Homo sapiens: one gene and its partners. The protein of the gene in region 4 interacts with the protein of the main gene of each other region in a biochemical or structural test. Each region holds a gene or a part of one and is shown on either strand. Other genes may lie near its edges. The genes, in order: MYOCD, RPS6KA5, MRTFB and KDM3A.

Region 1 (2,596 bases), on a different chromosome or scaffold from region 4:
GGAATAAATTTAAGAGGAAAAAGTAGATTAAAAACTAGGTCTTATTCAGGAAGTCTATACATATAGGCCTCTTGATACCCAGTTTATCCTACATTATTATTCAACTTGCTCAGTTACTAAACTGATGAAAACATTGAATTCGCTAAGTTGTATATGTATGTATGTATCTTAATGGGCATATACATAGCTTGAGAATCTGTTTTGCGAAAGTTCTGATTGTATTAGTATGATCCATAGTAAGTATCAGTTCAGACAGTTTGTGCAGTGCTTAAGATCCGGGCTTTGGAGGCAGGCAAATCACAGTCTGACTCTTGGCTCTGCCATTTCTCAGTTGTGTAACTTTAGGCAATTTACGTATCCTCTAAGCCTGGTTTCTTTATTTGCAAAAATGAGGATAATAATGGTACTACTTCATGGGCCCATTGTGGGAATAAAAGGAAATAACACATATAAATAGTACATAGCATAAGGCCTGGGTACATCACACAGCCACGAAAAAAAAAAAGTTTTACATTTCTTTTTAAAATAAACATTTTATTTAAAAATATATGCATTTTTTTTTTTTTTTAAAAAAGAACACATGCCAACTTTGGTATTTTAGCCACTGCTTTTTGTCTCTTCCCAATAACCCACATTTCTTTCTGATTATGCTCAATTGAGCCAAAGAGACCAACGTGAAAACACCACTCCACAAGGTCCCACAGAGAACCTATGCTTGCTCTTTTTTTCTTTACAAAGTGTCTCTTTGTGCTTCACTGAGGGAGGATTTTAAGCACCCAGCAATACATTGTCCTCCGTTCTTACTGCAGGGCCATTGGAAAGGAACTCTGGGGAGCAGTGTGGGTTCCTTTCCTTTGGAAAACATTAAAAAAGCTTCCAGCATCCCCATCATTATACTCCCCTTTTCCATGAACACACAGGAGCTATGAAACCACTTCTAGGAAATGCATGCTCCAGGGTTCACGATGGGAGCAGATGGTTAAAATAAGCACAGGAGACCTTCTGGCGTTGGTTTGTCTTAATCCACAGGGAAAATCGCTGATTCCCAGAATCAAAAGGGAACTTACTCACATGTTATTGCATTCAATGAGTCCTGTGATAATTTCCCTGGCAGATGACAACAAAATTCTTCCCAGATCTCATCCTGTCTTGAAATCGTCTCCCCATGGGTAGGCTCAATCTAGCCAGGGTTTCTCTATAAACCTGGACTCTAGAATCAAACCCAGCTCCTTAACGCAACTGACCAGATCTTGGCACTACAGGATTGTCTTGTTCCAGGACCTGGGCTCTGTGTGTCTATCAGTATCATCTGTCTAATAAAGCACTGGCAATTTTGACCCTGAACCAACCTACAAATTTATATTGGATTTATGAGAAAACCAAGAACCCAGACTCTTCACTACAGGTTTTCTCATATCTGATATTTGATTGCAAACTGTGTACCAGCAATTTTGGGAACTTCCTTCTGTGAGGAAGGCAGCTGAGGGCTGTGGGGGGAAATCAAATTGCCTTCATATTCTTAGATGATTTTCTTTTAAGGGCCAGAGGCTCACCAGTAAGTGTCCCTTTTGTCTATAGAGCTGCTACGATAAGTAGGGATAGGACACAAAAATGCTTCCTCCACCCTTTCCTTATTTTCAAGGGGCTTCTGTATCTGGCAATCAACACAAATCTTCAAACTCTCGTGGATGTTTTAAATGATGGGAGATATTAAAAGATCTCCAAGTGATAGACTACTGGTGTTTGTCCACAAAGAAAAAGACAAGAATTTTGAAGTGAGAGATAGCTTTTAGCTAAAAAGTGATCCCCACCTCCACCCCCTCTTGGAAAAATGAAGACCCCTTTTTTTTTTTCATCGTAGCTGAAAGGTTTCTAGTTTGAGGACTGGGAGATTCTTAGTGTTCTTGCATGTGCAAATACAACTCCCTGGTCATTCAAATCTGAACAATCTGTGCTGAATCAATTCAGTATTGTTTATCTGAAGATTTGTGTGCTCTGCCCATGGTGGGCATTAAATATTAGCCACTGGATGAGTAAATTTGTTGTGGGAGTTTTCAGCCAGACCAGAATCTGTTTCTAAAAGAGCTGATTGACTTTAAAATAAATAACATTTGGAAAGGACTATTTTGAATGCTTGGGATAGGTTTTATTGATGCTTTTTTTTCAGGTTGGACATAAATGTTTTTGAATGGCAAAAGGCTGACAGTTCTCAGACCCTCTATTATTCAGGTGAAGATTGTCTTGGTTTCCTCAATTACTGGTACAATTATTGTAGTGCTAAGAATGACTTCTCCTTAAAAAAATTCTGATTTACTTCTCATAATGTGACAGCTGAACTGAGAAGTTCATAGATCAGAAAGTTTGGCCCTTTTTTCCTTCCCTCCTTTCTTTCCTCTCTTCTTTCCTTCCTTCCCTTCTCCCTCCTTTTCTCTTTACCCCCCTACCCATCTCCTATCTTCCTTCCTCGCTCCCTCCCTCTTCTTCCTCCCTCCCTCCCTCTCTTCCTCCCTCTTTCTCCCTTAGAATAGAATATGTGTTGTCTCAATAACGTTGATAGAAGCAGGGTCACTACTAATAAGCACTGGCTTCCTGCAAG
Region 2 (7,036 bases), on a different chromosome or scaffold from region 4:
TAAATGGGCGAGTGGCTTCCTTCTCCTTTTAAGCCGTCCTTCAGGGCAGTTCAGAAAACGCTGCATTCAGTTATCCACACACGGTTTTCATTCAAGCATAAGTTAATGTGAGTCTTCTAAGATGTAAATTCACTGATACAGATTGTTGTGCTTCTTTAACACTCTCACTTATTTCCAAGATCCAACATACCTACCCCCACGCCCCGAAAAGCAAACAAACAAACAAACAAACAAACCACAAGTCCAAGTCAGATATCAGGCATTTGTACATTGACAGGTTTATTCTTAAAGCTTGAACAAATACATCTTTACACACACACAAGTTGGTAAAAAGTAAGCCCTTACTGCTTTGTTAAAAATAAAACCCATACATAAAGCTTTCCGGTCAAATTCCCGAAACATGAAAACATCACATTTCTACAATACATCTGCTTTTTTGATTCATGTGTGTTTTCAACACAGCTCAACAACTCATTCCGATCTACCCAAACAAAGAGAAAACTAACTTCCAGACCATGAAGGAAAAAAAAATACATGCCTCTTATAACTGTTAAAGACAAGTAGCTATAGAATTCTGAAAATTCTCAATAAATAGTTACTAGTATAAAAATGCTTAACTCCATATAGCTCACCTTTAATCAAAGGCAGTACCAGTTATCGCTATAATAAAGCACTCAAAGAACATCGAAATAACTTCATATCTATAGCAACGAAGGGAACATGGAACATTAGCCCTCCTAAACAATTCCAGAAGAGGGAAGTTCATTATGAATTAATACTTGGAAGATTCTAGCCCAGCTAGAATAGATTTTAAAAAACTACAATAAAGTATATAAATATGAAATTCAGAAAAGCAGATAAAGAAAAGCTGTCACTTAATAACACAGGTGGCAGCAACCAAAAATATCATTCCCTCTGGGGGGAATTAATGCTAGATTAATGTGAATAAAATAAAGGAAAATGACATAAAATGAAGATACAAAATAAAATTGATCCTTGATGTGAGAATAACTGTATTCCTTGCATGTTCAGAATGTCCTTATGTTCTTCTAGAGAGACTTAGAAAAAAAAAGCCATGCAAATAAAAATCTCATTACATGCCAGCTGAGTGACTTGCAAAGGTTTGCCCCAGAAGGGCTTTTTAAAGAGGCTAAAGACATTCTAATTGCCATCCAAATTGATGTTTACACCAAAATAAGAAGAAATCATCTACTCCCAAAGCAAATCCTATCTATGGACTTCATAGAATCCCTTATACTTTGTAACATTTTCTGCTTCCTTCTTAAAAACCTAGGGGGAAGGTGAGCTCCTGGGACATAAATACGCAGGGAAAGAACCTCATTAAGCCAGGCAGAGGATGGCAAAGATCAACAAAAGAAAAGAGTCCACCGCACTCCAGCCTGGGCAACAGAGCAAGGCCGCATCTCTAAAAAGTAATAATAAATAAAAGGAAAAAGATGCAAGCAAATTTCTGCAAATAGAAGCGTTCACCCCACAGATGAGAAAAGGGGACTCAGTCGTAACCAGGAGAGCCCGCGCAGGCACCTTGGTGGTCTGAATCTAATAGATGCCACTCTCAAATTCTGAGGAGGATGAATTAGCTACTGCTTATCAGGCAACTAACAGAGCCGGCAACAGAAAGGTTACAAGGCCACCTTCGCAACCAGCCCTTTGAAACTGGAAACAAAGTTTTGGCCAGAGATGAACACGCACCCATATGTCTGAAGACAAAAGTTTTTTAAGAGGGCACGGACTCCGGATCTTTTATCTTATGAATAGATCCACTTTGGTTGGTAATTCTTCTGCCTGACAGGCTGCCTTGGGCTACTACACAGCTGATATGAGTGGACAGCAAAGAGCTGTGTAAACCTGTCTAAAACAGTGCACTTGGTGGCTACATACGGCTAATCGCTGCTAGTGTTTAGAGTCTGTGGCTGACTCATCTCAGTACGGTGACCTGGACTGCAGCAAGATCGGGCACAGCTTCCCTTAGGTGGGAGAAAGAAGGAATACCATGGAGGTGTGTGTGGATGTGTACGCACACAGGAGAGAGTCGGGGCTGGTGGGGAGGCAGAGAGAGAGAAAGGAAAGGCCAAAAGGAAAGTTAAAGGGATTTACTTTATTGATGCTAATGTAGGGGTCAGCTAACAGTAACAAGCTACTACTATTATTTCCCAAAGATGGAACAAAGGGTGACGTTACCCGTTGATGCTAGATGATGTCCTCAAACCTGACGTAGTAAAGGAAAATCAACACATTGTCTCACAGCTTTCTTACCTGGCAGCTGGCACCACATTAGAATCTCCATGGCCGTGCATGGTGGCTCATGCCTGTAATCCCATCACTTTGGGAGGCCCAGGTGGCAGGATCGCTTGAGCCCAGCCTGGGCAACACTGTGAGACCCCACCTATATTTAAAACAAAGGAATCCCCAGTCTCTTTGAAGTATGTGCCTTAGAAGGAAAGTTTCAGGACACTCTGGCACTTTTTTTCTAGTCTGGGAAGGGATCTGTGGGCTTTCTACAAGGGAGCAAACAACCTCAATTCTTTCCTCTGGGATCCCGTCAGCTTCTCCTTCCCCAGAGGTCCTGACATTGCTTACCAGCCATTGACCTGAAATGAACTGCTTCAACGTGTTCTGAAGGACCTTTAAATAAGAGATGGTAATAAATCCAGCTGCTACAGAATGACAAGAAGAACAGTCATGATTGTAGTCAATTTTAAAAATAGACATCCTTTCCCTTCTTGCTCCCTCCCATAAATACTAAATGGAAGAAGACACAAATAGAAAGAGAAGAAAGTATTTTTAATCTATTAAGAAAATGAAGAAAACAACCTAATCAATGTGGGAAACCATACAAAAAAAAAAAAAAAAAACAGAAAATATTACATAACCAGGCCTTTTAAATAAGGATGGAATTCAATAAAAAACTTAAAATGCTTACATCTTCTGAAATAACCCATGATTAGCTCCAAGTTTTAGAAAGTTCTTGAACAAAAGGTACACATCAAAGTAGTGAGGTAGCAGCCCCCACTTTCCCAAAAAGTTTTCAGGAAAAGGCTGCACAAGCACCTGTTGGTGAGGTCACCAGGAAGGAATCTGCTTCCGGCAGGAAATTGCACTGGGTGAGCTCTAAGGCTCCTAAACTCTAAGATTCTCGTATGTGCTGAAAACACTGCTATGACGACAGTTTGATCTGATCATCTATGCATTCCTCTGAAATAAATGAAGTCAATTCAAATAAGACATTCTACAAATTAGCCAAGCACAATGATATATTTTAAACCCACACTCAGACCGACAGTGTACACCATAAATTTGTACTAGAACAATACCCATAAATATAAAAAATCTACTTAATTTTATACTTTGTTAGTTCCTACTTCAAAATGCTAGTCAATATTCACTACAGAGAAGTGGGTAAAGATACTTTTATTTTATTTTTTTTTTGAGACAGAGTCTCACTCTGCCCCCCAGGCTGGAGTGCAGTGGCGTGATCTCGGCTCACTGCAAGCTCCGCCTCCCGGGTTCATGCCATTCTCCTGCCTCAGCCTCGTGAGTAGCTGGGACTACAGGCGCTCATCACCATGCCTGGCTAATTTTTTTGTACTTTTAGTAGAGACGGGGTTTCACCGTGTTAGCCAGGATGGTCTTGATCTCCTGACCTCGTGATCCACCCTCCTCAGCCTCCCAAAGTGCTGGGATTACAGGAGTGAGCCACCGCACCTGGCCTGGTAAAGATACTTTTAAAATTAAATTGCTATATAACAGAAAGTCTTCATTATTAAATATCATTCTACCCATCTTTGGAATCAGTGTACCTTATGGATTTTTTTAATCCTCTTTAATCGATCCCTCAGTATGCTGGTGAGACAGGGAGGCACAGGTTAACCCCATTTTACAGATGAAGAAATGGAGGCAAAGGGAGGCTGAGTGATTTGCTCAGGGTCACCAAGTCTGCAGCTAAGCTGGAAATAAAGTACCAAACTGCCTTTTCCACAAAATCCTCAGTAATACTCAGAGAGAGTGTCATATCTAGTACATTTTACTCTTCACTTAAAACCAAGGGTTCAGGGAAAAAGGAAGGAATTAAGTGAGCTCTTTGGGTAACCTTGTTTTCTTCTAGAGGATGAAGGTATTTCTCTTTAGATACTGGTAGATATCATTAGTAAAAACTGAATGGTTTTTACTAATAAAGCTGGGCACAGGCCAAGGCAGACATGAATGACAGGCTTTATCTTTCATGGCTCAGTTCTCACAAGAGGCTCACTGTACAAGGTCCAACTTTGCATCTAACTTCAACACACAGCCTTCCCAATCATCTCACAGCGTTTATTTGAACAAAAAAGACAGAATTTAATATATTCGTTGATCTAAAGAAATAAACAGTATTATTCAGTAATAGTCCTAGTATATAAAAACGTGGCATTCATCTACAGCAAAGACAAATTATCGGTATCTTTTCTTTAAAAAATCACTTTTTTTTTTTTTTTTTTTTTTTTAAGACGGAGTCTCGCTCTGTCGCCCAGGCTGGAGTGCAGTGGTGTGGTGCGATCTTGGCTCACTGCAAGTTCTGCTTCCCGGGTTCACGCCATTCTCCTGCCTCAGCCTCCCAAGTACCTGGGACTACAGGTGCCCACCACCATGCCTGGCTAATTTTTTGTATTTTTATTAGAGACGGGGTTTCACCATGTTAGCCAGGATGGTCTCGACCTCGTGATCTGCCCGCCTCGGCCTCCCAACACTTTTGTTTAAAAAATGGAAATTTCTTCTAAAATGGTTTTTCAAAGCTATGGCTCATAAGGAAATAACTAATTGTCAATGTCTAAATACCTTAAAAAGAAGCATATATGTAAGTATTAGTCCAATCATGTGAAACCCAATAAAACAAGATTTGATTTGAAAACATTTTCAATGAAAAGTGCAAAGGTTAAGGGAAAAACAGCATCTGATATGTGCACCCTATTGTAAAGAATTGGTATTTAATGCTGCAATGGAGTACTAACCACTAATTTCCAGTTTGCCACATGAAAGGCATACTTCCAACTTTTATTTTATCCACATTAAAAGTATTTGTCTTTAAACAAAAATAAATTCCAGTTAGCCTTTGCTGGGAGAAACTTTTTTTTTTTTTTTTTTTTTGAGACAGAGTCTTGCTCTGTCGCCCAGGCTGGAGTGCAGTGGCGCGATCTCGGCTCACTACAAGCTCCGCCTCCCGGGTTCATGCCATTCTCCTGTCTCAGCCTCCCCAGTAGCTGGGACTACAGGCGCCTGCCACCACGCCCGGCTAATTTTTGTTGTATTTTTAGTAGAGACAGGGTTTCACCATGTTAGCCAGGATGGTCTCAATCTCCTGACCTTGTGATCCGCCCGCCTCGGCCTCCCAAAGTGCTGGGATTACAGGCATGAACCACCGTGCCCGGCCTGGGAGAAACATTTTTAAGTGTGCAAAGCAGTCACAATGAAAAAAGCCCCGGATGTTAGCAAAAAGAGTGAATGTGTTTGCCGTTCTATAAATAAAATGAGTTCACTATAAAAAAAATTGTTATGATGCTTTACTTAATTTGCCCATTTCTCAACATAGGCTTTGAAAAATTCCTCTAAATGAAACAACTTTATAAGGGATGAAGATGTCATAATGATATTTTCCACTGTAGAAACTTCTTAGGTTATCACTCAAAAAACAAAACAAAAGCCAAAACCTAGCAGAAACAAATGACTAATCAAACTAAAATTTCAAAGAGTAGATTCATCAAACTAAGATCTCCCATTAAGACATCAACAATGAAGTGGCTAATAAAAAAGTAAGCATCACATTTATGATGTCTAGATAAAAGTCAACCAAATAAATAAGATGCATCCCTTAAGTAACAACAATAAAAAAAAAACCCAAAAACAAAACAAAGCATCAATGGATGTTTTAAATACCTAAAATTTAGGTTGGGCACAGTGGCTCACGCCTGTAATCCCAGCACTTTGGGAGGCCGAGGCAGGCAGATCATCAGGGCAGGAGTTCGAGACCAGCCTGACCAACATGGTGAAACCCCATCTCTACTAAAAATACAAAAAAAAAAAAAAAAACCCTAAAATTTAACACTATGAAGTCTCTATATTAAATCAAAATCGTAACCATCTTGAAAGCTAAATTAAAATAATCCTGGAGCTCTGGAATGTTATTCCCTCTTAAAGCTGTATTAGGTCTTTAGGAAATCAATGTGGTGTTACTAGTTTATGTGTATCCCATTATTCATTTAAAAAGAAACGAACACAAATATTTCACACCCTTTTTCTTGATTAATCATTTGTACCAGAGAAAACTCTGTATATACCAGTACAGGTGGGGGATTACTGGCAGGGCAGATAGTCGATTTAAGGAGTGAGGGGCAGTCTTATTAATTTGGTATTGTAAGCCCCCAATACATGTGTGTATACACATACATAAACACACACCTATGTAATTTTCACAAGACCAAACTATTAAAGTACCTAGAAAATAGAATATTTTTTCCTCTAAACTAAGATATCTGTTTATATAGACTATTGATGCAAACTAATTTTAAGTAATTATAGTGCAAGGAGCCTGATGTATGAAGATTTGACATTGTAATTTATAATTCCTAAGTAATTATTAAATGATTAATGTTTAATCATTAATCATTTAATAATAAATGGCTACCAGATTTAGAACAAAACTTACTGTAGCCATTATAATCTGCTAACGTTTGAAAAACTTAACATGAAATCAGCACAGAAACTAAGTTTTTAGAAATAGCCTACATAATGAAGATTATGTATTATATAGTCACAAATTTTTATTTTAGATTTCACAATGTACACTTGTCTCAAGTAAGTCTATTTAACTAGAATTTTTAAAGACTTGCGATTTTGCTAAATGTATCATCATTAGAAAAAGTTTTCTGGATGTGTATATGAGCAGGGTTTGATTATTCTGACATCAGAAAGCCAACACTAGATTCCACAGCAAGGACACTGGAATTTAAAAATCTGGAATACTTTAACAGTAGACTTTACTCAA
Region 3 (7,483 bases), on a different chromosome or scaffold from region 4:
ATATTTTTTAAAGTTCTGATTTTAAAAACCAGTAATGACCTCTTTTACCCTGGAACAAGATACTGCTTGCTCAAATTAATATAAATTCATTACTCTCAATTTGGATAAATTTCCATCTCCAAAGTGTTCAATGTCTCTAACTCTAGATAATTTAAAGTATAGCCTTCTGTTTTGACAGCAGTCATTACCTACATGTCTGTTTCCATAGCACCTTTCAAACGTAACACGCAACTAATAATAAACACCTTACATCAAGAAGCAACTCGTCTATTCAACAAAAAAAAGCCAAATAAACTATTATTAAAAGAAGAGTTAAATGTATAATGTTACAATGTAGGTAACATTGTAACATATATAAATGTTATACGTAGGTAACATATAAATGGTCTGAGCTGAACTTTCTTAACTCGATTTGCATTTTCCCCTATGCAGCAAGACTAGCAAAGTTTGAAATGAAAAGACAACTGCTAACAAATCACACCATGAGGACTACTGGCATATGTGATTACAGGTAATTTTAAGTTTTACCTTTGAATACATCTGCATTTTCCAAATTCTCTAATATAGATATTAGTAAGCAGAAGAAGCTATTTAAAGGGTGATTACACTAGTTTAGATTATACTTAACTAAGACTTATTTCTACACATTATTGTTGTTGCTTCCCAACTCCATTCTAACCTCAATCTGCTACTTGATTCAAGTGTTTAGTTGTCAACATTTCCATTAAACACAGCCAATCTTTCAGACAGAGGGACACAGGTACTAACCTGACCTCCCATCTGAGATTCTAGAATAATCAATGAAAGCGCCACTAACCAAAAGCATGCTTTTTGTACGTCAGACACTTCTGAAAGAAAGAAAAAACAAAACAGGACAAAACTCTCAGCAAAAACTGTCTGTTAAATTTCCTTTTATAATTCCTATTATAATTGACTAGATAACACTGATGTTTGGAGTGGTTCTCCAAGGAGCTGGAACTGCCCCCAAGGAACATTTTTAGTTATCAAAGAGACTGGGGGACACCGCTGGCATTTAGGGTTTGGGGGGCCTGGATCTAAAAGACTTCACACAACACATAGGTGGGACAGATCTGTATAATGAAGATTCGCCTGGTACGAGAGTCTTTCAAATGAACGGGCAGATTAAGCCCACTATAAACTGGCATTACTTTACAATATTTAAAAGTTTTTATAAGAAATTGCAGGGAAACTCCAGTAATGTAGGAGAAAGTAGCAAGGGAAGCTTAAATAGAGTAAGGGAAAACTGTCTAAACATTAGCGATCGTTTCCTCACACCACACACCGTTAACATACAATTGTAGTATCAGAATACTGAGCATATACAAACAAGTGAGATACTGATATTGAACCAAAAATTTTCAACCTTGTTAATATTTTATTAATTATTACCAATGGTAATTGTTAGGAAGCCAGTATTGTCCCTTCGAGTGTGTGACACAAAAAATTCTACAATATAGTTTAAAAATATGGATCCATGGAGGGCTTGTGCTAATATTTACGTATTTATTGAGACAGTCTGTTATTTGTCTTGCCATGTTATCCCTAGTTCAATCTAGGTTGTTTCTCTCTTTAATTCGCAAGAAACAGGTTATGCCAACCTAGGTGTTTTTCCCAACCTCCGTCTGTATCTCTGCTCTTTCCCTGAAGTAGCGGCCTCACTCTGTAGCCCAGGCTGGAGGGCAGTGGTGCAATCACAGCTCACTGCAGCCTTTAACTCCTGGGCTCAAGAGATCCCCTCACCTCAGCCTCCCAAGCAGCTGAGACTACAGGTGTGCGCCACCACACCACGCTAATTTTTTCTTTTTTTGTACAGGTGGGATCTCGCTATATTGCCCAGGCTTGCTCTTGTTTGAAATAGCTCCTCCTAATTTTTTTTAACCAATACAAATGTACTCATTAGAAGCTGGCACAAGCACCCCAGTATATACTGTCTTCCAGCACAAGAGTATGTCCTAGATGTGAATGGTACAGCAACATCTGTCATATACTGTTCTCTATTTCGCCCTTACGCTTCAATCAAACCATCATACTGCTTTTCAAGGATGTGTGTAGGGAGGTCACATTGTTTATGAATTTCATTTCAGGGTAGTAAAGAGGGCTTTATACATGTTTGCTGCAAAGGGGAAGAAGGGACCTTGATTCTGACGAGGTTGAGAACCACTGTTCCCAAGAGTGGAATCGCGTGCTGAAACAAAAATCGAACTTTTAGAGAAGAGTTTCCTTTGCCTAAGGCAAGCCCTGGGCTCCAATATTCCACTTCATTGGGCCTGACACCCCACTACCAGCACACGCCCGCTGCTCTCAGCCCACCTCTGCTTCCAAGCAGGGCCAAACAATGGTTCTTGACCACTTGGGGATCGGGGACCCTTTTAGGAACGAGACAAAAGCCCTGGAAAAACTCTCTCCCAAGAAACCCATATACCAAGCTGCATCCAACTTCAGGGCGCTCCCAGACACCCCCTCTGAAGCCTGGTCGGGACCCCAGGAGAAAAGGGCTGAGGGGAGTGGGAGGTGGGAAGAGGAAGGGGGCGCAGGGGTCCCGGTCCCCTCCCACCGCCTCCTCGCAGTGTGGCTCTGGCCCGGGCGCTCCACCTCTCTGTGCAGCCCCGGCGTGCAAGCGCGCAACTTAAGTGCCCGGCACACAGCAGAGGCTCCATAAACGCCGCTGCCACTGTCAGCAGGGCCAACTCTGCAGTCGAGATGGACACTGAGGCGGCCCCGGGGTCGCGCCCGGGCGCGAGGACCGGTTGAAGGAGGCACCGGCCCGCGGCCCCGGCCGCCCCGCCCCGCGCGAGTCCCGGGGACGGTGCGGACCAAACGGCGCCGCAGCTGCTGCGGGGACGAACAGGGATGGCTGCCTGGGACGCGGGATGTTCACCAGGCCCGCTCCCCCACCCAGCCCTCGGTCTCGGCCGCTCTCACCCGGCCTCAGCCCCCAACGGCCGCCACCGCCCGCCGCTCACCTCCCCGGCCGCCGCCGCCGCCGCTCCCGCCGCCGCCGCGCGATCTCGCGAGACTTCGCTCCCCTCGGCACTCCCCCTCCTCCCCGCGGCGCGCGCGGACCCCAGGCTAGAAGCGGCTCGGCGCGCTCCCCGGACGCTGCCCACCCCGCCTCAAGGGTCAAGCCCGGCCTCTCTCGCTGCTCGCCCCCGACTCCGTCCCTGCGTGCACTCCGCCCACTCCCGTGACTGGGAAGGGTTAAAGCCCAGGTGCGAGGCGGCCGCCTCCTTCTCACCTGGCCGGCCGGGTGCGCGTGCGCATGCGCATGTCCGGGGCTCGGCCCTGAGCCTCTGCAAAGGCTTGGACGGTGGCGACAAAGGTGACCGCTGCCACCCGTCCTGAGTGCTCGCTGCGCGCCGAGCACTTAACAGCCCCCTTCGGTCCTCACACTGCCCTCCAAAGTGGGTATTACCAGCCTCCCCATTCTAGAGAGAGGAAAAATGGAGGCCTGGCAAGGAAAGTACAGTAATGGCTCCATGTCACACAGCCAGGAATTGGCTGAGCCAGTGTTGGGATCTGGGGTTGTCTGATGCCCAGCCCAAAACCCATTTCTGCACCTCAGTGACAGCCCCCAGGCCCTGTCCCTCTTTCCGTTCAAGGCTCAAGGCGCTGCCTCTCAGCCGCAGTCTTCATTCTCTCCCAACATTCACCAAGGTGAGAGGAGGAGCTCCTGGGAAGTCATTTGCTACAATCTGTTTTCAATGGAGCTGGCGACAGTAAAGTGCTTCTCCCTCACTTTACAAACTTCCCAAGGCCTGTGAAGCCCCTGTGCCACTCCCTGTGCAGCTCTGAAGACTGTGTGACTATTTTTATGCGGTTCTGTCTCCTCCTTAGACTGGTGGCGTTTTGCTGGTAGAGAGCATGATGGAATGGCACACAGGACAGAGAATCAGAATGTACATGATGTTAGCACACAGAAAAGTGTGACTTCTTCCCAGGAGTAAGTCTTAATGAAATAATAATTGTTTGTAAAGAGGAAGGGCTAACATTTATTGCGGGCATATCAAGGTCATACCAATCTTCTTGCAATCCTGGAGGTGGAGAAAGTAGCCTGTTTCCATTGTGAAATAGGATTTGAACCTGGGTCTGAGTCCGGAGCCCAGCACTACCTTGTAGGTAGGTCCTGTTCTGCAAGCAAGCGAGCATGAGCTAGCTCATCTGGGCCGGCTGCTGTAAGATCAGGAGCCCTGGAGGTTCTAGGTAGCCTTCCACCTGCAACAGCGTCTGCATGGGCTTACCCAGCCCACCTGATAATCACATCAATGTCAGCAAGTGCTGGCCTGCCCATGCTCCAAACCTGTCCACTCTCCCCGGAACCAATTGCTGTGTACAGGCCAGAGCATGTGGGTGCCCTTGCATGTTTCAACCTCACTCAACTCACCAGATGGAGGAAGTGGGTGAAGAAGGAAAATCACACCTGCTGGGCAGCTACAAAGTGCTGAGCCCTGCTCCAGGTGCTGTCTATTTATTAATTTATTTAGCCCTCCCAACAACCCTGTATTAGGGTTCTCCAGAGAAACACAGCTACTAGGTTCTAGATAGATGTAGGCTGGGCAAGGTTGCTCATTCCTGTAATCCCAGCACCTTAGGAGGTCCAGTCAGGAGGATCACTTGAGCCTAGGAGTTTTAGACCAGCCTGGGTAACACAGTGAGACCCCGTCTCTACAAAAAATAAAAAGAATTGGGCATGGTGGCACATGCCTGGAGTTCCAGTTACTCTGGAGGCTGATGTGAGAGGATCTCTTGAGCCCAGGAGTCGAGGCTGCAGTGAGCTCTGACTGTGCCACTGCCCTCCAGTCTGGACAACAGAGTGAGACCCTGTCTCTAAAAAAGAAAAAACTATATAGATTCATAAGAGGGGATGTATGATGGCAGCTGAGAAGTCCTACGATGTGCCATCTCCAAACTGGAAAGCCAGGGAAACTGGTGACATAGCTCAGTCGCAGTTGTGGCCCGAGAACCAGGGAATCTGATGGTGTAACTCTCAGTTCGAGGCTACAGGCCTGAGAACTTGGGAGCCACTGGAGCGAGTCCTAGAGTCCAAAGCTGGAGAACCTGGGCTGGGCGCAGTGGCTCATGCCTGTAATCCCAGCACTTTGGGAGGCTGACGCAGGTGGATCACCTGAGGTCAGGAGTTCAAGACCAGCCTGGCCAACATGGTGAAACCCCGTTCTCTACTACAAATACAAAAATTAGCCAGGTGTGGTGATGGGTGCCTGTAATCCCAGCTACTGGGGAGGCTGAGGCAGGAGAATCGCTTGAACCTGGGAAGAGGAGGTTGCACTGAGCTGAGATTGCATTATTGAACTCCAGCCTGGGCATCAAGTGAGACTGTCTCAAAAAAAAAAAAAAAAAAAAAAAAAAAGCTGGAGAATCTGGAGTTCTGGTGTCGAGGGACAGGAGAAGATAGTGTCCTGGCTCCGGAAGAGAAAGAGAGAATTTGTCTTTCTTCTACTGTTCTATCCAGGCCCTCAACTGATGGCGATGAAGGCAGATCTTCCTTACTCAGTCACTGATTCAAACACCAATCTCTTCTGGCAACACCCACACAGACACACCCAGAAGTAATGCTCTACCAGCCATCTGGGTATCCTTTAATCCAGCCAAACGGATGCCTAAAATCAACCGTCACAAATCCCCTGTGGAAGTTATGGTTGTCCCCATTTTACAGATGAGAAAACCAGGAACATAAGAGGTGAGAGGACATGCCCAACAACACACACAGCAACACGCAACGACACACACAACACGCAACGACACACAACAACACGCAACAACACACAGTTGGCAAGTGGTTGGTTCCACCCCAGATCAGCCTGTTTCCAAATGCACAAACTTTGCCTTTCGTGACCAACAAGGCTATTCCCTACCTCAAAAGCCTTTATCTTTATGAAACAGAAAATCCCCAAATCCCCTGAGGTCAGGACTCCAGTGTAAGATGCTGTTATGTTCTCCTCCGGGTGGCCAGTGCCTCAGTGTTCTCATCTAACATAAGAACATGAGTAGGGAAAATTAACCAACTTAATATATGTGAAGCATACGGAAAAGTGCCTTACAAGATTAAGCACTCAGTAAATCAAAGCTGTTATTACCATGGGTGGATTCTTTGTGATATTTTATCCTTTCCTCATTGCCCAGTAGAAATAGCAATTCAAGTAGGAGGATGGGCTCATATACAGAAATAAAATTAGTTTTTAGGCCAGCTGTGGTGGCTCATGCCTGTAATCCCAGCAGTTTGGGAGGCCGAGGTGAGAGGATCACCTGGGGACAGAAGTTCGACACCAGCCTGGCCAACATGTTGAATCCCCATCTCTACTAAAAATACAAAAATTACCCAGGCATGGTGGCGGGCGGCTGTAGTCTCAGCTACTTGGGATGCTGAGGCACAAGAATCTCTTGAACCCAGGAGGTGGAGGTTGCAGTGAGCTGAGATTACACCACTGCACTCCAGCCTGGGTGACAGAGCAAGACTCTGTCTCAAAAATAATAAAAATAAAATTAGTTTTTAATTATATTTCTGAATGAAATAAATAATTCTGAGAACAATAAATATTTTCAAAATGGGCAGAATTACTCCAGTACTTCCCCCTAGTCATGAAAGGATACCAGCTCTCCTGAAGCAATCTCTTCCCAGTTTCCTGAGGGAGGGGCAGTCTGCTTTATAAAGGACTCTGCTTTTATAGGAAAAGCCACCCAAATATTTTTAAAGATATGACTTGGAAGTCACTTCATAGGCAAAAATAAAAGCGAAGAAAAAATTGAGCTGAAACTTAAGAGAATTTTGATGTGGTTAAGGGTTAACACCAGGCTGGGCACCATGGCTCACACCTATAATCCCAGCACTTTGGGAGGCCAAGGCGTGCAGATCACTTGAGGTCAGGAGTTCAAGACCAGCCTGGCCAACATGGTGAAACCCTGTCTCTACTAAAATTACAAAAATTAGTCAGGTGTGGTGGCGCATGCCTATAATCCCAGCTTCTCTGGAGGTTGAGGCATAAGAATCACTTGAACCCAGGAGGCAGAGGCTGGCAGTGAGCAGAGATCACACCACTGCACTCCAGCCTGGGCAACAGAGGGAGACCCTGTCTCAAAAAAAAAAAAAAAAAAAGAGGGTTAACACCAAAGTGACATCATGATTTGAGGGAACGTTTTATAGGAACTGAAGTTGCCACTAACCTCAGGCCTTGCTGTGCCAAATTTAGGTTTCCATCCTGACACAAGATGTGCCATACTTTCCCATCAATGTGAGCGGCTCCCTGTGGACCTGTGGAAGTGATCCTCATGGGGAAGGGGTGGGCATAACAAGACCACGGGGCGTTATTCTTTGAAAACAACAAACAAACAAAATGGGTAATTCTGGCCAGGCATGGTGGCCCACTCCTGTAATCCCAGCACTTTGGGAGACTAAGGAGAGAGGATTGAATGAGGCCAGGAGTTTGAGACCAGCCTGGGCAACATAATG
Region 4 (8,035 bases):
GGTTGAGTTGTGATGTGTACAAGTAAGGCAAAAATCCAACCTAGCCAAAATTGTTTTTGACATGAATTCCCAGTTGTCTTCAGGTTAGGCACCAAAGTGCAGTGGAGAAGACACTGGGCCCAATCTGGATTCGCAGCCTCCCTCCGCAGCTAATTATGCAAATCTGGACAAGATTCCTTTTCCTAAATCTATTTCCTCATTCTGAAAATGAAGATATCACCACCTCCTCAAAGGATGGGGGCGGAGGGAGGAGATTTAAAAAATATATACATGTGAAGTTCCTCCTAGATTGCCTGCCTAACCCAACAGGTCCTCAATTGCTGCTACAGAAGGGAAGGGAACGCCTAGTCTCTCAACATCTGCCAAAGAACTAAAGACTGGAAAGTTTAAATAAAATCTTGTTTCCATTCAAATCACATAAAAACAAATGCACTAGAGAAAATTTTATTTGGCAGGCGAAATAAACCACAACAAGCACGACTGAAATCTAGTACACAAAGCCCAGCTTACAGAAAGGTTATAAGCCCAAAGCAAAAAGGTTGGCCATTCTTGCACCACAATATATTATCTCTATAAACATCAAAACCTGATTTGGCAGGAGAATGAGCCGAATGCAGGAAAAAACCAAACCTCACAGCCTATGACAGGAGCTCTGCTGTGGCATAGCTCTTGATCACTGGCCTGATGGTTAAGAGGGCAGCTTCTGGAGTAAAACTTCCTGGGTTTGACAGAATACAGGCTATGTCAATTCCTACGTATGTGTCCTTGGCAAGATGCTTAACGTCCCTCAGGCACAGTAGTTTCATCCATAAAATGGGGGCAATATTAGTACCTACCCCCAAGAACTGCTGTAAGGATTAAACGAGATCATAGTTGTGAAGTGCTTGCCACATGGTTAAATGCTCTTCGGTCACTCCTCCTTTTCAACAAGAGACAAGGCACAACACTGAAGCTTTAAAACATGCCTAACAGCATACCCCTTTCCTACAACTCTTTGCAGATAAATACCAGTTTGGGCATACACTGTCACCCTGAAAGTGTTCAAATGAACAGTGTTTCAGAAATCAACATATAATCAACTGCCAATGCTAAAACTTGCTGCCTTTATTTGAACATAGTTTAAGAAAAAGCAAAGATGATGGCCAAGTGAAGATTCTGAAACACATCTACTAGGCAGGGTGGAAATATCTTCTGTTCTGACAAGCTTCCTTCAAGTTATCACCACTTTGGAGTCTTTGTTAGGAACCTTTTTTCAGTTATTTTCGCACAAAGGAGTCTTTGTTGGTACAATGGCTTCCTCACTGCTTGTTCCCAGACAATCCTTTCACATCAATACTTCTATTAGGGAGCACAATCAGAATTCATCTGTCTTTGAAAAGATCTAACAGAAAAAGGTTCTGAGTGTCATAATGATTTAAAAAAAAATCACTGGCCGCACTTGTTCCCAATTCTCTCCCTCCCCTCATGCGTCCAAGTGCAGTATTTCTAAGCCAGTCCTCCAATATGCCATATATGGGACAGCTCCACCCCATCCCTCCATATATGGTCATATCCCACACCCACCCACCGGCTCATCACAGACAACCAGGAACCCACTCCTGCCCTGACCCACCATATACGGACAAACACCCATCCTAATACGCCAAACAGAACTTAAGCTCCTCCCTCTACACTCACTTCATTTTTAACAAGTCTGAAAGTTTTTTTAAAAGTTGAGTGAATAAATTAACAGGAACAAACAAACAAAACCAGCTGAAAGTACTTCCAAGCACTAACCTTCAATTCTTAATGACTCCAAACGTCACTTACAGGCCCTACCTAACGCTAACAAAAATACTCCTCCTCCTCTGCAGTAAAGATGAGACAGTCCTGGTGGGACACAGCACCGGCATTAATGAAGCGTGTCTGAACAACCCTAAGCCCATTATTAAAGCCAGGCAGCCAGGAGCTGTGGGCCAAACACAACTCGGCTCTATACAACCATTCCAAAGACTTTCAAGATCTAGCTTCCTGCACCTTCAGATCATATGCCAACTTTCTGGTCTCCGTTTTCAGAAAACGGAAGGAGGGAACCGATGGTCGCGTTACCACGGTAACTGCGAAACGTCCGGTGGCAGAGGCCCGGAGCCGCCTGTACCTTCAGATCCTTCTTGGTAACGTCGGTGTGGGAAACAGCTCGAATGGTCCCGGAGAGCCAGGGCCACTCGGCGACGCGCTCCACGTCCCAGCTGTCGTGGCTGCCATCGCTGCCGTCGGCTGCGGACAGACTGAGAAACCTCCTCCCCACCAATACCGGCCAACTTTCTCCGAGCGTGAGCACCATGGTTTCCACGCCTGCAGGAAGAGCTCCTCCCTGCAAAAACACAAAAACAAAATGCGACGGGGGCGGCCGGTGGGAGGGGGCCGGGCGGAGACAGCAGGGAGGGCGGGCGGAGGGCGCCGAACCCGCGCGAGGACGCGGCCCCGGGCGGACCCGCACCGAGCCCCCCTCCTGCGCCCTCCCGCCCCCCGCCGCCCTCCCCCGCCACACACCCGGGCCCCAGCGCCGCGTGACCCTCGCTCTCCCAAGTTTGGCTTTTCTAACAGCTCAAACGCAACCGCAGAGGGAGTGAGGGAAAAATTATCTGCGGCTCGAGTGGATTTGAAAGTGCTCAGCCCCCAGCCCCGAAAAGAAAAGGCCCCTGGTGCAGAGAGCCGGTCCCGGGCGGCTGGGTCCCCGCCCCGGGCGGCCCCACGGGGGAGGGTGGGCGAGCCCGCGATTCCGCACTTGCCCCGCCGCCCCGCCCCGGCGCCCAGCTCCCCGGCCCCGAACCCCGGGCGCCCGTCTCCCGGGCCTGCGCCGCTGCCAACGGGCGACGGGGCCGCGCGCTCGGCGCTTTCACCTTTCTCTCCCCTCTCCCCGCAGCCGAGGCCGCGGCGCTCTTACCCCGCCTCCCGCCTCCCTGAGTCACCGGCGGCAGCCGCCGTTTCCAGCCGCCTAGCCGACTCCAGCGCTGACTTGGTTCAAGAGCTCTCACAAGACACGCACAGCCTCCCGGACCCGCCCCCCTCGGAGCCGCTTCCGCCGCTCATTGGCTGAAACACAGGAGCTGGGCGAGGCTCCGGGGGAAACAGATCATCACCATTGGCCCCCCGGGCGAGGGCGGGGCCAGAGAAAAAAACAATTCCTTGGCTGCCTCCTCCCTTTCCCCTCCCCCTTCCGACTCCCGGGCGACCCCCATTAGGTTAAAGTACACAGAGAATAAGCGAGTGATCCCTCCGCCATAGGCCTATTCTTTCCATTTGTTGCCTCACAGTATGCAAAAAAAAAGTCCCGCGAAATCGGTTATCAACTTTGGGGCCCGGAGGAAAATTGCTGTGGCGCATAGATAAGACTGAATGGCGAGACCCTGAGCTATAAGTGCCTACTGGATTGTTCTTCAACCGCGTAGGCTGTCGACCGAAGATGAGCCTTCCACTTGGCGGAAGAATCTCACAGGAAAGGGTGAGGGCGGTGCAGGGTTAGCGGGGGAGGGCAGGGAAGAGAACGTGCGGTTTCAGGCGTACTCAGCTAGAGGGAGGAGCGATAGTGCTCTGGAGGCTCGTGCGCAGGCGCCTCGCCGAGCTTAGGCTGCTGGGCGAAATGGCTGCGGGAGGCGCAGGCGCACGTGGTACTGATCGTGGAACGTCTAAAGTCCGCCATTTTGAAGGATAAATGAAGAAAGGCGTGGAGTTACTGGATAATGACGTTCATTAAATTTAGAGCAAAAGAGACCTTTAAATACAATGTATAATGAGATTTTTTTTTCTCCAAAGTGGGATTGAGAAGGTATTCAGATACTTACAAAGAAATTTAAAGTAGTTGAAGGCCATAATGAATGATGGAAGAGATGAAAGAGAAGGTGACTTTGAAGGACAAAGGAGTTTAGAGGTGATTGTGTGCTCTGGACCTGAAGTATTTTGATTGAATGAAAAAGAAATGGAATGAAGAAATTGAAGATATGTTCATAAAGGCTAGTGTTTGACATTACATCACATTTAATCCTTAAGAAGAACTCATGCCTCCCATTTTACAAGCGTGGAAACGTATAATCAGAGAATGTTTGGAAACATATAAGGGATTATAGATGCAAATCAACTCTGGATGTTGATTTTCAATATACATATTCTGAATGTGATTTTAAGTTTTTAAAGTTAGTAACAAGAATTAAATTGGATTTATAATCTGTAGACCATTTAAAGGAAGGGGGCTGCTAAATGAGAAGAAAAAACCTATCCAGCTGAAAGAAGGCAGAAATGGGAACGAGATAAGCAAAAGAAACCAGAACATATGGTAAAAATGTTTTTCATGTGAAAAGTCCAAACATCAGTATTTACAATAAATGTAAATGGGTTAATTTCACTCACAAGTTTTAAAAGACAGTTGGGAATAAAAGGACAATCCAGCTATAAATTGACCATAAGCAAATGCTTACAAAACAGGAAGCTTGAAAATACTGGGCTAAAATATTTAATCAAATGGTAGCCAAATGAAAGCAGTATAGCAATATTAATACAATTAAAAGTATCAAAAGAGAAAGGATTTTATATTAAAGATAAAGTCCATGAAGACAGTATGGTCTCCTGAACTGTTATGAATCTAAAAACATGGCCTATCCTAAGGTGACGCTATGAACGATGAGAAATTTTACAAATTTGACAATTTGTTTTCAGAGTAGAAGACATAAATATCTCAGAAATATGCAACTCAAATGTAAAATATAAGGGAAGATATGGAGAACTTAGATTATGTAATTAAATATTAATTTGAAAAACAACTCAAGGGAAAAATTCTATTGAACCTGAAGGAACATATACTTTCTATGTTGAATTCATTATTTCAGAGCTTAGAAAAGATGGAAAGATATCCAATGCATTTTATAAAAGTTATAAAACCGTTTCACAAATTCTGAACTGGGCGAGTATAAGAAAGAAAAACTATGGTTCAATTATACTTAGGAACATAGATGGGAAATTCTTTTATAAAATACCAGCAAATTAAATCCAGCAGCATTTTTTTTAGGTAATTGATATGATTAATTAGTGTTATATGAATGCAAAGATACTTCAAGATTAGAAAATTACTAAAATTCACCATGACAGGTTAAAAAAGAAAAATCGTATATTCACCTTAGGGCTAAATAGAGCATGCAGTCACATTGAACACTTGTGATCTTAAGAGTATTTTTAAATTACATAGAAAACTAAGAAGATTATAAGTGTACACTTATATTCAATACCACCCATAATTTTTAAAAAATGTTTTTAAACTTTCTAAAAACCTAGGAATATAAGTTACGTACCACAGAAAAACACCCACACACATATGAACGAAAAAACATCTGCAAATAACCTAAGTGTACTCCAGTTGGAGAAGGAATAAATAAAATTATTAACAATAAATGGAATGTAATGCATATATTGGAAAGTTGTAGAGGATTTGTAAAGGAGTCAAAGCAGCTAGATGTTCCAATAAAAATAGTTACCAAAATACATTATGAATGAAAAAGAAATTTGCATTTGGTACTATTTCAAAATACACATACAAAAACAACAGTATATATGTTCTGTTAAATATGGTTATTAAAACTTACAGTAATGGTTACTGGTATTAGGGGGTGCACACTAGAATTAGGGGTATTAGTCAAAGACAACACATATTATTTGTAATTCTAATTTTTTATAAATACACTTTTTTTGTATTTACATTTTTATCACCTTATTTTTAATTGACAGGTAAAACTATATGGTGTACAATATGATGTTTTGGTATAGATATACATTGTGGAATGGCTATATCAAATTATTTTACATATGCATTCCCTCACATACTCATCTTTTTTTGTGTGGTGAGAACACTTAAAATCCACTCTTAGCAATTTTCAAATATACAATATATTGTCATTAACTGTAGTCACCATGATGTACATTAGATCATTTGAACTTATTCCTCCTGTCTAACTGAAATTTTGTGTCCTTTGACCAACATCTACCCAATCTCCCCACTCCCTGTAATTCTCTCATTTTATAAGGTAAATGTACTCACATGTTACTTTTAAAATTTAATTTTTAACTCTCATTAATGGAATCTGCTACATTAACAAATTAAAGGAGAAAATACATATGATTATCTCAATAGATACACCAAAAATTTTATATACTTCATTTTCATTCATTATAAAAACTCTTAGCAAACTATCAAGAAAAGAAAATTTTATAACTCTATAAAGGATATCTACCAGAAATATACTTAAACATTGTACTTAATTGTGAAATTTTAGAAAAATTCCCAATAAAGTCAGGAGCAAGATAAGGATGCCCAATGCTGTCATTACTATTCAAGTTACAATAGAGGTTAATTGCTAATGTAATAAGACAAGAAAAATAATACAATGTAAACATTGGAATGGAAGAAAAAGCCCAAAACATTTGTAGATAAATCAAAAGCATCAGTGACAAATTATTAGAATTAAAACAAGAATCAAAAAGATAATGCAATAAAAGATCAACAAACGAAAATCAAAAGAATTCCTATTCCTTAGCAAGCATCAATTAGAACATACAGTAGAAAAATAAAAACCATTAATGATAATAAAACATGTAATCCCTAAAAATTAATACATGAAATGAACACAACCTATATGAAGAAAATTAGACTTTGCTGACATGTATAAAGAAGATGAAAAATTCTGTCTCTTGATATGATCTGATAAATATGTCATTTCTCCTCTAACAAAACAACAAATAAAAACATCAAGACATAAATATATAAGTAATGAAGAGAACAAAGAAACAGACCCAGTGTATATTAAAAATTAGTTTGTGATCGACATATTTCTAGTGGGTGTAAAGAATAAACTATGCAATACATGCTTTGAGGTCTATTGATTATCCATTAAAAATGTATATATAAGCCGGGCGCAGTGACTTATGCCTGTAATCCCAGCATTTTGGGAAGCTGAGGTGGCAGATCACTTCAGGTCAGGAGTTTGAGACCAGCCTGGCCAACATGGTGAGACCTCATCGCTACTGTAAAAATTAGCTGGCTGTTGTGGTGCACATCCACAATCCCAGCTACTCGGGAGGCTGAGACAGAAGAATCACTTGAACCTTAAACCCAGGAAGCAGAGGTTGCAGTGAGCTGAGATCACGCCACTGCACTCCAGCCTGGATGACGAAGCAAGACTCTGTCTCAAAAAAAAAAAGTATATAATGTATATATAACCAAGATTCCTACACCAACATTCACGAAAATAAGTTCCAGGTAGATCAAAATGCTACATATTTTAAAATCCAATAAAATATTTTAAAATTCCCTCCTCTCTTCTACTTTTTTCTCTTTCCTTTCCTCTTTCTAAACATTTCAGTCTTGAGGCCATTAGGAGGGGCAGAGCAAGATAGGTGTTAATAAGGAGAGGCTGTCAGCCATGGGATGTTAGAGCTCTAAAGAGTAAGGAGTAATAGCCGGGCATAGACAGTCAGAGCCCAAGTGGGGTGAGAAGGGTAGACACACAAAAGGTTAACCTAGCCTGGGTTATCTAGAGTCCAAGTGAGGTGAGGAGGGCATCCATGAATGGGGGCAGCCTAGTGTGGTATGTTGGAGCCCAAACAGAGTGAAGAGACTGTTTACATGAGAAGAAAGCCTGGCATGAGTAACAGAGCCTGAGGAGGGGGAGGAGAGTGTGTAGGAGAGTGATTTGACATGGATGTCAGACCCCAAGGAGGGTGAGGAGGGCATTCATGTAGGGACCAGCAGTGGGCACTGAAAAGACCAAGAGATCTCTTAGAAGCAGCAGGAGAACCAGGTGAGAGGTACATTCTGGAAGCAAGCCAAAAAGAGTTTCAACTTGGAAGACCATGCAGTAAGGTCAAAGGATACACTGAGGTGAAGACAGATGGAGGACTGAGCAGCAGGATATTGAAACTGCCAACAAATATATTTTAGCCACTGGGTATTGCCAGAAATAACTTCCACTGGTTAGTAAAAATTATCCAAGCTTCAGGGTATATATTCCAG

The links.
Region 1: the proteins of KDM3A (region 4) and MYOCD form a complex in vitro, tested with the Homo sapiens proteins (one study listed by BioGRID).
Region 2: of the proteins of KDM3A (region 4) and RPS6KA5, one has a biochemical effect on the other in vitro, tested with the Homo sapiens proteins (one study listed by IntAct).
Region 3: the proteins of KDM3A (region 4) and MRTFB form a complex in vitro, tested with the Homo sapiens proteins (one study listed by BioGRID).

What each region holds. Positions count from the first base shown.
Region 1 is NC_000017.11:12,766,867-12,769,462, reverse strand, and holds the end of MYOCD (myocardin), read right to left. Parts: 3' UTR 514-2,596; downstream 1-513. UniProt on the Homo sapiens protein: Smooth muscle cells (SM) and cardiac muscle cells-specific transcriptional factor which uses the canonical single or multiple CArG boxes DNA sequence. Acts as a cofactor of serum response factor (SRF) with the potential to modulate SRF-target genes.
Region 2 is NC_000014.9:90,847,606-90,854,641, forward strand, and holds the end of RPS6KA5 (ribosomal protein S6 kinase alpha-5), read right to left. Parts: 3' UTR 256-7,036; downstream 1-255. UniProt on the Homo sapiens protein: Serine/threonine-protein kinase that is required for the mitogen or stress-induced phosphorylation of the transcription factors CREB1 and ATF1 and for the regulation of the transcription factors RELA, STAT3 and ETV1/ER81, and that contributes to gene activation by histone phosphorylation and functions in the regulation of inflammatory genes.
Region 3 is NC_000016.10:14,066,867-14,074,349, reverse strand, and holds the start of MRTFB (myocardin-related transcription factor B), read right to left. Parts: upstream 3,032-7,483; 5' UTR 2,985-3,031; exon of another isoform or gene 2,944-2,984; intron 844-2,943; exon of another isoform or gene 769-843; intron 1-768. UniProt on the Homo sapiens protein: Acts as a transcriptional coactivator of serum response factor (SRF). Required for skeletal myogenic differentiation.
Region 4 is NC_000002.12:86,436,336-86,444,370, reverse strand, and holds the start of KDM3A (lysine-specific demethylase 3A), read right to left. Parts: upstream 3,001-8,035; 5' UTR 2,927-3,000; intron 2,911-2,926; exon of another isoform or gene 2,813-2,910; intron 2,702-2,812; exon of another isoform or gene 2,533-2,701; intron 2,354-2,532; 5' UTR 2,324-2,353; coding exon 2,138-2,323; intron 1-2,137. UniProt on the Homo sapiens protein: Histone demethylase that specifically demethylates 'Lys-9' of histone H3, thereby playing a central role in histone code.